2 linked regions of the Homo sapiens genome follow. The protein of the gene in region 1 interacts with the protein of each later gene in a pairwise test. Each region holds a gene or a part of one and is shown in the gene's direction. Other genes may lie near its edges. The genes, in order: NUDT1 and ACY1.

The links.
Region 2: the proteins of NUDT1 (region 1) and ACY1 interact in binary tests that used the Homo sapiens proteins (3 or more experiments, as listed by UniProt).

Annotation. Positions count from the first base shown.
Region 1 is NC_000007.14:2,244,934-2,251,645, forward strand, and holds the end of NUDT1 (oxidized purine nucleoside triphosphate hydrolase), read left to right. Parts: intron 1-4,377; exon of another isoform or gene 4,378-4,759; intron 4,760-4,923; coding exon 4,924-5,069; intron 5,070-5,708; coding exon of another isoform or gene 5,709-5,764; exon of another isoform or gene 5,765-5,802; intron 5,803-5,895; coding exon 5,896-6,068; 3' UTR 6,069-6,212; downstream 6,213-6,712. UniProt on the Homo sapiens protein: Oxidized purine nucleoside triphosphate hydrolase which is a prominent sanitizer of the oxidized nucleotide pool. Catalyzes the hydrolysis of 2-oxo-dATP (2-hydroxy-dATP) into 2-oxo-dAMP.
Region 2 is NC_000003.12:51,986,342-51,989,796, forward strand, and holds the end of ACY1 (aminoacylase-1), read left to right. Parts: intron 1-73; coding exon 74-163; intron 164-263; coding exon 264-320; intron 321-646; coding exon 647-720; intron 721-805; coding exon 806-855; intron 856-967; coding exon 968-1,112; intron 1,113-1,214; coding exon 1,215-1,283; intron 1,284-2,182; coding exon 2,183-2,262; intron 2,263-2,424; coding exon 2,425-2,485; intron 2,486-2,569; coding exon 2,570-2,734; 3' UTR 2,735-2,856; downstream 2,857-3,455. Other genes in the region: ABHD14A-ACY1 readthrough (NMD candidate), read left to right, coding at 74-163, 264-320, 647-720, 806-855, 968-1,112, 1,215-1,283, 2,183-2,262, 2,425-2,485 and 1 more. UniProt on the Homo sapiens protein: Catalyzes the hydrolysis of N-acetylated amino acids to acetate and free amino acids.

The DNA of each region.
Region 1 (6,712 bases):
AAGGACTTAGAACGGTGCGCGGTGTGCGGTGCGTGCTGAGTGCGTGTTAGCTGTTGTGGTGCGGTGGTGCTGGGGGCTGCAGGGCGTATCTGGAAGCCTCTGTGCAGCAGCTTGAATTGAACCCTCCCAGCACCCTCACTGTTGCCGAAGGGCTCGTCAGTCACTTGGTTCCTCTGTCTGTTCAGTGGAGCTGATGATCGCTTTCATCTCACACTCGCTGTGCACAAAGCCTCACTGCATCCTCAACACAGCCAGCTTCACCTAGGAAGGAACTGAAGCCCAGAGAGGTTGAGCCGTTTACCCAAGATCACACAGTCCTCCAGACGCCCCTCAACCCTCACAGGGTAAATGAGATCATCTGTGTAAACATCGCTGCACAGACGTTAGCCCCCGTTCGTGTTTTTGTTCTGAGAAAGGTAGGCCAGCTTGCCTGGAGAGGAGAACTACAGAGTAAAGAGGGTCCTGGCACGGAGGAAAGCCAGGACGCTGCAGCCTAGTGGCTTTCCAATTTTTTCATCACAACCTGCAGTAAGAAATACGTTTTGTACTCTGATAGAGTGTACACACTCAGGTGTGCAGGTACAGCTAAAGTAAGTTGCAGTAGCCGCCCTTATTACATAAAAGGGGGCTCTACTTTTCCGATTCATTTCTCTTTTTTTCTCCAGAGGTGGGATCTCACCCATGGCACACTCTTGGCTCACTGCAGCCTCAAACTCTTGGGCTCAAACGATCCTCCTGCCTCAGCCTCACGAACAGCTGGGACCACAGGCACATGCCACCACGCTCAGTTCGTTTTTTAATTCTTTGTAGAGATGGTGTCTCATTAACTCCCAGGCTCAAGCGATCCTCCCTCCCGGGCCTCCCAGAGTGCTGAGATTGCAGGTGTGGGCCACTGGCTTGACCCTTTTTTTTTTTTCAATTGCAATCCACTAAGCCGATTTCCCGGGGTACATGGGTCCCAACCCTCAGTTTGGAGAGCCCTGTGTGTGCTTCCCCTCCAAGGCTTGGGACCCCAGACCGCAGCCACACGGACACGTTCGATCAGTCACTGTGGCAGGTGCCAGTGCGACAGGCTCTGTGCTGGGGGCCGCAGCTGGGGAGGAGGACCACTGGGTGTGAGTCGGGCATACAGCGTGTCCCTGCCAGGAGTGTGTGCAGAGCGACCACAGCACAGGAAACAGGAAAGGTGGCCCCGGGGGTTCTCTGCCCAGCCCTTTGTCTTTGATCTGCTAAGACTGCCCATCAGCTCATGGATTTCTGTAGCGCTGCTCTGTGTGGGGCCTGGGGACATGAGGAGGAACAGGTCAGTCCCTGCCTCTGTGGAGCTCTCGTGTCATCTGGCTGCCGGGTTCAGGAGACCTGCAGAAGGAGGTCTGGTCCATACCTCGTGGCCAGGGGCCTCCAGGAGAAAGGAAGGGAGAATAACTGGGCACCAGGAAAATGCTCTGAGGGCCTGACGTTGGCTGGGAGAGTGTGGAAGGAGGGAGGAAGGAGACATTTGCAGAAGCACAGAGGGCTGGAGGAGCGCCAGCTGTGCAGAGAAGTGGTGGGTGTGAGTGGAGCAGGCAGCGGTGCTGAGGAGGCTGGATGGAGGAACTCCAGGTGGCTGGATTTCCGCTTCTCGTCCTGCTGGTGACAAGCAAAGCACAGGCCCCCTCGGCAGCCCTGCTTTATTTTCTTCTGAACTTTGTCACGGTCGAAGGAACTTTCCTCCTACCCTCTGTAAATATTACACAAACAGAGGGACCATCACTCCAGACCCTCAAAGCTGAATACAGTGGTGGCTTGCTGTCAGACCAGGGTTTGAGGGGGGGAACTGAGGCACAGAGCCGGAAGCCTGTGACTTCCATCCTCGGGTGTAACCTGGAGACGGGGGTTTCACCATGTTGGCCAGGCTGGTCTTGAACACCTGACCTCACGGGATCCACCCGCCTCGGCTTCCCAAAGTGCTGTGATTACAGGCGTGAGCCACCGTGCCCAGCCGAGACCCTGTCTTAAAGAAAGAAAGAAAAAAATCCTTCGTTGGGGAGCATCTGCAAGCATGAGGAATGGGGGACACTGGAGCCAGACAGGCTGGTGCTTAGGGGTCCCAGGGCCCCGGGAACCCAGCAGCAAACAGCCTCGCCCTCAGGGGATGACGTACCATCAGCCACAGGCCACCAGCACGGCCCTGGGCTTCAGTACCTGCGAGTCTGAATGGATTTGCTCCTGGGGCAACCCCAGGCCCGTGCTGCTCAGGAGCGGGAGGCAGGGAGGAGCGTCGGCAGCCCGGTCTCTGGGGAGGCTGGTTCCTGCTTTATCCACGCAATACCCAGTCCTATTCTATCAGGAGGACCCCAAGATGGGCCCTAACTCCCAGGCCAAGAGCCGGTTTAGGCACCCTCCCCGCTTGCCTGCAGGGGGCAGGCCTGAGCGCCTAACCCCAGTCCAGAGGGCTGGACTCAGACCCTCCTCTGTGGGGCAGGGGACAGGCACGTAGGGAGTACTGAATTGTGGGGGTGTGCAGATTTGGGCTTCAGGCGCACAGTGTGAGCCGACCTTTCTAGACAGCATCCCTGGTCCCCAAAGACTAGCGAGGCCGGGGACACAGGAGCAGCGATGGGAAGCAGGCCCGCCGGAACCTCCGACTCCCACCTCCCCACGCCACGGACGCTGCACCACCCTGTGTTTTTGTTTCATGTATTTCTCACCCTGTTCCCCGTGTTCCGCCTGGGGAACCGAGTGCCATGGACAGAGCAGACACTTGGGCAGAACTGAACAGCGTCATCTTCGCCTGCCTGGCGCTCCCTGCCTGGGAAATGGAGCTTCAGCTCTGTCTCCCGGCGGATTCTTGATGCTTCCTACGCTGCCATGTGCTAGGGAAGATTAACTAAAATCAGTCACAATATCCCACTGGGAGGTGACGCTTTTTAAGACGAGCAACAGCCGGCCGCCAAGAGGCGGGTGAGGCCCCACTGAGCACTTCTATTGCATCTAACTGGGGAGCCATTTATACCCAAGTAGAAGCACACGTTCACTTTGTAGCTCAAGCCCAACTTTAATTAGCCATCTGTATGAATAAATGCTGATTCCAGGTCCGTTTCCTCTCCAGTCCCTGCAGTTTAAGCTGAGGAGGCATCGCTTAAATCAGACCATTTAGACCAGGCATGGTGGCTCACACCTGAAATCCCAGCACTTTGGGAGGCCAAAGCAGAAGGATCGCTTGAGCCCAGGAGTTCAGGACCAGCCTGGGCAACATAGCAAGACCCTGTCTCTACAGAAAAACACACACACAGAAAAATTAGCCGGGCATGGTAAGAGGAGGAGACTGAGGTGCCCAGCGGCTGCAGCCCGTGCATCCCCAGGGTCCCAGCACAGAGTGGGTGTTCAGAAGTGTCTGCTGAGGGACTGAGCAAGAACCCGACTGAGCACAGCAAGCAAACGCTCAGAACGGGAGGTCAGCAGCACCGCTGTGCCCAACACGGGTTTCCACCATAACCCGAAGTTGGAACGTTTTATTCTTCCATACCAAACAGGAGTTGAGAAGGCGGCTGGGTTCCTTGAGGTGTGGAATGTCATGCACTCCTCCTTTCTTGCGTGGAAAGCCCGAGGTATAAAGTGTGTATGATGTTTGCTTTTTTTTTTTTTTTTTTTTTTAAGACAGGGTCTAGCTCGGTTGCCCAGGCTGGAGTGCAGTGGAGTAATCCCAGCTCACTGCAGCCTCCAACTCCTGGGCTCAAGCATTCCTCCCATCTCAGTCTCCTGAGGAGCTGGGACTACAGGCGAGTGCCACCATGCCCAGCTAATTTCTGTCCTTTTTGTAGAAACAGGGTTTTGCCATATTGCCCAAGCTGGTCTCAAACTCCGGAGCTCAAGCAATCAATCCTCCCACCTTGGCCTCCAAAAATGCTGGGATTACAGGCATGAGCCACCCTGCACCCAACCTGTTTGCATTTTTATTTTTTAACTTTAAGCTATTAAGGGTTAATGTTTGCATTTCTTAAGGGAAAAACAGAGGAGAAAGAGCCAAAGGAAAAACACTGAAATGGTAGCATTCCTGGGTGATGAGTTTATGGCGTTTTGTTTCCTGGTTGTCTATAACAAATATGTAATTTTTAAATTAGCAACAGCGTTAGACTACTTCGGGGAAACCTGGCTCTGTGTGCCACGAAGCAGGGAAGGGCTTGTTCCCAGGCGCAGCAGCACTTGGGCATCCCGTGGTGAAGTCAGCCCCTTACACCTCCTCCAGGCACAGCTGTGGGGAGCATGTCCCGAGAAGGCGCAGGAAGAGGCCCAGGCCACGTGTCCCGTGTGGTCAGCCTGGGGACCAGAGTTAAAACCAGAGCTCCTCCTTCAGGAAACAGATCATAGAAGCCTGTGGTTTCATCCTGTGTTCTCAGAGAAGAGGCACCAGGCTGGAAAGACATTTCTTTGGGCAGACAGGCCCAGAGTATAGGGCCCAGGTTCCCAGAGCAAGCGTCCCAGGGCCCCGGCGGTCGTAACTACCGCTGCATGGGCTCTGATGCTCAGCCGCGGAAAAGCAAGTAACCGGGAATGAAGGAAGTGGGGTCAGTCCCAACCCTGCCACGTGCGGGTCTCGAGACGGTGGACAAGTGGCTGGACTCCACTGGGCCTGGGCTGTCACTGGTACACAGAGGGCACTGGGCTAGAACTGCGTTCCTCCCACCAGAGGCTCCACACCATCTCCGGGCCCCTCCCCAGAGCCTCTCAACCAAAATCAGTGTCTTCAAAGTTCAAGTTGATTCTGAAGCTCAGCCAGGTCGGGACCAGATAATGCATTCTAGGGGACATCCTCCTGGGTCTCCCATCCACCCTGGTGGCTCCCTGGGCTGTGTGTAGATGCCCAGCTCCTCCTCCCTGCCATCGTGTGGGCATGGCACCATGCCCTGACGGCCTCCCTCCCCTGCCCACCTCTGCCCGCAGGGAGCTGCAGGAGGAGAGCGGTCTGACAGTGGACGCCCTGCACAAGGTGGGCCAGATCGTGTTTGAGTTCGTGGGCGAGCCTGAGCTCATGGACGTGCATGTCTTCTGCACAGACAGCATCCAGGGGACCCCCGTGGAGAGCGACGGTGAGTCTCACAGGGCCTGCTCCCCCTCCCCACTATGCGGGTCCCATCTCCTGGCTGGGAGAAAGGCCATCCGCCCAAACCATCTCTGAGTGCCAGGGACCGGGCAGCCTGCGTCCCCCTCCACCCCACAGTGCCAGCGTGGGGCCCATGAGCCGTGGTCTCTGCACCGAGGCTCCAGTAGCGTACCTGCCCCTGCTCTGCGCCCACCCTAAAATGAGAAACACGGTAATGAGGATGAAATATAAACGATCGTCAGGTTCCTCACGATCACTCAGTGAACTCCTCAGAGAGTCAGTGTACGTTTGGGCTGGCCAGACGCAGTGGCTCACCCCTGTAATCCCAGCACTGTGGACTGTGGGAGGCCGAGGCAGGAGGATCGTTGAGCCCAGGAGTTCAAGACCAGTCTGGGCAACACAGTGAGACCCCATCTCTACAAAAAAACATGGTTTTGTTGTTGTTGCTGTTGTTGTTTTGAGACGAAGTCTCGCTCTGTCGCCCAGGCTGGAGGGCAATGGCGCAATCTCGGCTCACTGCAAGCTCCACCTCCCAGGTTCACACCATTCTCCTGCCTCAGCCTCCCAAGTAGCTGGGACTACAGGCGCCCGCCACCACGCCCGGCTAATTTTTTTGTATTTTTAGTAGAGACGGGGTTTCACCGTGTTAGCCAGGATGGTCTCGATCTCCTGACCTCGTGATCCTCCCGCCTCGGCCTCCCAAAGTGCTGGGATTACAGGCGTGAGCCACCGCGCCCGGCCAAAAAAAACATGTTTTTTAAGCATGAAGTTTGGGTTGCACCTCAGTGCCTCCTCTTCCCCCATTGGTACAGAAATGCGCCCATGCTGGTTCCAGCTGGATCAGATCCCCTTCAAGGACATGTGGCCCGACGACAGCTACTGGTTTCCACTCCTGCTTCAGAAGAAGAAATTCCACGGGTACTTCAAGTTCCAGGGTCAGGACACCATCCTGGACTACACACTCCGCGAGGTGGACACGGTCTAGCGGGAGCCCAGGGCAGCCCCTGGGCAGGAGACGTGGCTGCTGAACAGCCGCAAACCATCTTCACCTGGGGGCATTGAGTGGCGCAGAGCCGGGTTTCATCTGGAATTAACTGGATGGAAGGGAAAATAAAGCTATCTAGCGGTGGTTTTTTTTTTTTTTTTTTGGAGATGGAGTCTCTCTCTGTTGCCCAGGCTGGAGTGCAATGGCACGATCTCGGCTCACGTCAACCTCCGCCTCCCAGGTTCAAGCGATCCTCCCATCTCAGCCTCCCGAAGAGGTGGGATTACAGGCGCACATTGCCACACCCAACTAATATTTGTCTGTTTAGTAGAGATGGGGTTTCACCATGTTGACCAGGCTGGTCTTGAACTCCTGACCTCAGGTGATCCACCTGCCTCAGCCTCCCAAAGTGCTGGGATTCCAGGCGTGAGCCACTGCACCCGGCCGGTCTCTAACCTTTCAAACGTTCTTCTCCAGACACCAGCACAGCCTGCCAGGTCCCGTCCACAGGAAGCTACCAGATGTGCTGGGCTTCAGCCCGCACTGCTGCACAGAGGTGGGAGAGGATGGAGACTCTGTCCCCGAGGTGGGCAGCTGGCCCAGGGCAGAGACACACATGCTCAGTGCCACAAGCTGGGGATGTG
Region 2 (3,455 bases), on another chromosome or scaffold:
CTCAGATACCTTTGGGAAAGGGGAGGGTGGGGCGGGGCAGCCTCCTCATCTCACGTCCCTGCTGCTTTTACAGATGAGGAGGTTGGGGGTCACCAAGGCATGGAGCTGTTCGTGCAGCGGCCTGAGTTCCACGCCCTGAGGGCAGGCTTTGCCCTGGATGAGGGTGAGCAGGTTGGCAAGCCAATGAGCAGCCAGGCAGGGAGTAGGAGGCTGCTAGTGGGGACTGAGCTGCTCCACCCTCTGAACCCCCTTTCCCTCCTCAGGCATAGCCAATCCCACTGATGCCTTCACTGTCTTTTATAGTGAGCGGAGTCCCTGGTGTAAGTATGAGCTTGGAGGGAGGGCTCACTCTACAGGCGGGAGGCTAGGCCAGAAAGGGCACGGTCCTATGCAGGGTTGCACAGCAAAGTTGAGGCCTGAGAAGGCCTTGAACCCAGGGCCTCTACCTCCCAGCTCTTTCCTATCTGAGCTTCTCTGAGGGCAAGCCCTGAATGGGCAGAAACCAGCTGTATGCTACGGGCCCTGAGTGGGGACAGGACCCTGCCAGAGGAGCCTGGAATGAGGGGGAGACCTGGGCCCACCCCAGGCTGATTGTGTCTCCAGCCCCTCAGGCTGAAGACACTGCCTTCCCCCTACACCTCCCCAGGGGTGCGGGTTACCAGCACTGGGAGGCCAGGCCATGCCTCACGCTTCATGGAGGACACAGCAGCAGAGAAGCTGGTACGTGGCACCCCAGGAGGGAGTCTGGGAGTTCAGGAGGCTCTATCCTGAGGCCACTGTCCCATTTAACCTCATATTCTCATAGCACAAGGTTGTAAACTCCATCCTGGCATTCCGGGAGAAGGAATGGCAGAGGTGAGGCAGCCTGGGAGGCAGTGGGGTGGCTCTGGGAGGCGGTACCACAGAGGATAGAGTCTGAGCCACCTCTTTTATCTGTTGCTGCCGCTACCCTGCCCCCACACCACAGGCTGCAGTCAAACCCCCACCTGAAAGAGGGGTCCGTGACCTCCGTGAACCTGACTAAGCTAGAGGGTGGCGTGGCCTATAACGTGATACCTGCCACCATGAGCGCCAGCTTTGACTTCCGTGTGGCACCGGATGTGGACTTCAAGGTGCCACCTCCACCTGGGTTTGGAGGAGGGATCCTGGGTCCTCAGTCTTGTCCTAGAGGCCTCTGGAAAGCCTGAAGGATCAGCTCGTCTCCCTTCTCTTAGGCTTTTGAGGAGCAGCTGCAGAGCTGGTGCCAGGCAGCTGGCGAGGGGGTCACCCTAGAGTTTGCTCAGGTATGGACTTGGGACATGTGATGGGAGAGTGTGGGAGCCGGGGGAGACCCAAGTGTGCAACAGTGGAGTGTGTGCTTGGTGTGTCTGCATATGTCTGGGCATTTCTTTATCTGTGACAGACACATTTTATTCCAACAAGCATTCATTGTAGAGGCCACTGTGGGTGCTGGGGAATGCTGTGGGGAGTAAAATTAGGCACAGTTCATGCCCTTGTATGGTGAAACGGGGAGATATAAATCAAACATTTATGTGATATTACTTTTTTCTGAGAGAATCTCACTCCGTCACCCAGGCTGCAGTGCAGTGGCACAATCTCGGCTCACCTCCGCCTCCCGGGTTCAAGCAATTCTTGTGCCTCAGCCTCCAGAGTAGTTGGGATTACAGGCACCTGCCACCACGCCCAGCTAATTTTTGCATTTTTAGTAGAGACAGTGTTTCACCATGTTGGCCAGGCTTGTCTCGAACTCCTGGCCTCAAGTGATCCACCCACCTTGGCCTCGCAAAATGCTGGGATTACAGGCATGAGCCACTGCGCCCAGCCGTACTTTCATATAACCCATGTGGTACAGGAAAGGGTGGCCCCTTGCACTCTGAAAACCTGTAACTGGAGTATCCAACTAGTCTGAGAGGTCTGGGGGAGCCATCTTGAGGAAGGGGCACTTGGGCTAGGATCTGAAGGATGGACAGGAGGTAAGTAGACGGAGGGTGGGAAGGTCCCAGACCTAGGACATTTGAGGGGCTGAAAGAGGACCTGTGGCTGGACTGGCTACCCAGATGTCTGGGTAGGTGAAGGAGTGGGGGTGGGGAGGTGTTATGTACTAGGCACAGCCCACTCTATGGGAAATAGGGCAAGATGCCCAGGCCCATGTCCTGATCCTGCCATTCTTCCTGTCCCTCAGAAGTGGATGCACCCCCAAGTGACACCTACTGATGACTCAAACCCTTGGTGGGCAGCTTTTAGCCGGGTCTGCAAGGATATGTGAGCACGCTGGCCAGCTCTCCTCACAGCCCAGCCCCCTACTCCTCTCCTTCCTGCTGCCCCCTCCCTTCTCCCTCCTTCTCCCACCTCTTTCCCACCTTCCTTTGCCCCTTCAATTCTTCGCTTTCTCCCTCCCCATTCATCAGGCTCTTTCTCCTACAGGAACCTCACTCTGGAGCCTGAGATCATGCCTGCTGCCACTGACAACCGCTATATCCGCGCGGTGAGCCACTTGCATATAGTGCCTGGGCAGTGGACTGGGCCTGAGTGCTGGCTTTTCCCTAACGGCTCTTCCTCACCCCTGCAGGTGGGGGTCCCAGCTCTAGGCTTCTCACCCATGAACCGCACACCTGTGCTGCTGCACGACCACGATGAACGGCTGCATGAGGCTGTGTTCCTCCGTGGGGTGGACATATATACACGCCTGCTGCCTGCCCTTGCCAGTGTGCCTGCCCTGCCCAGTGACAGCTGAGCCCTGGAACTCCTAAACCTTTGCCCCTGGGGCTTCCATCCCAACCAGTGCCAAGGACCTCCTCTTCCCCCTTCCAAATAATAAAGTCTATGGACAGGGCTGTCTCTGAAGTACTAACACAAGGACACTCGTGGAGCAAGAATTTTCCTTTTCCTGGGGACATGTTACCATCTCCATTTCACAGATGAGGAAACTGAGCCTGGCTGTTAGCACTTCCCCACTACCCCACACTGCTCTGTGCCCCTTGACACAGCACACCCATTCAGTACCATCCAGCCATGTCTGTGCCTAGCAAGAAAGGGCCACAGTTCCTATTTGAGTGGCCACCATACTTAGTTCTGACCTATCAGGGATTCCATTCCCATTAAAGAGGGATACTAAGGACCTCAGGAACCACTCCCATCTTCCTGGGTGTACATCTGGGATCCTGAGACAGTACCAGAATAGCACCAGCTGGGCCCCTGCTAGATGAGGGGCAGGCAGAGGGCCAACGGTGACTGCTGGCTCCTGTCAAAACCTGTACACCCTTGTGTTGGCAGCAGGGGCCACAGAGGGGCAGGGTCCCTGGTAGACTAGGTCAGTTCATCTTAGAGGCCTCAGCACCCTGGATCTGTGTGTGCAGAGGCCCAGGAACTGGGCTTTCATCTCAGCCTTGCTAGGACCCCCAGGTAGTACCAAGAGTAAACTATGGCCCCAGTAGCAGAGCCTGATCTAGCCAGAT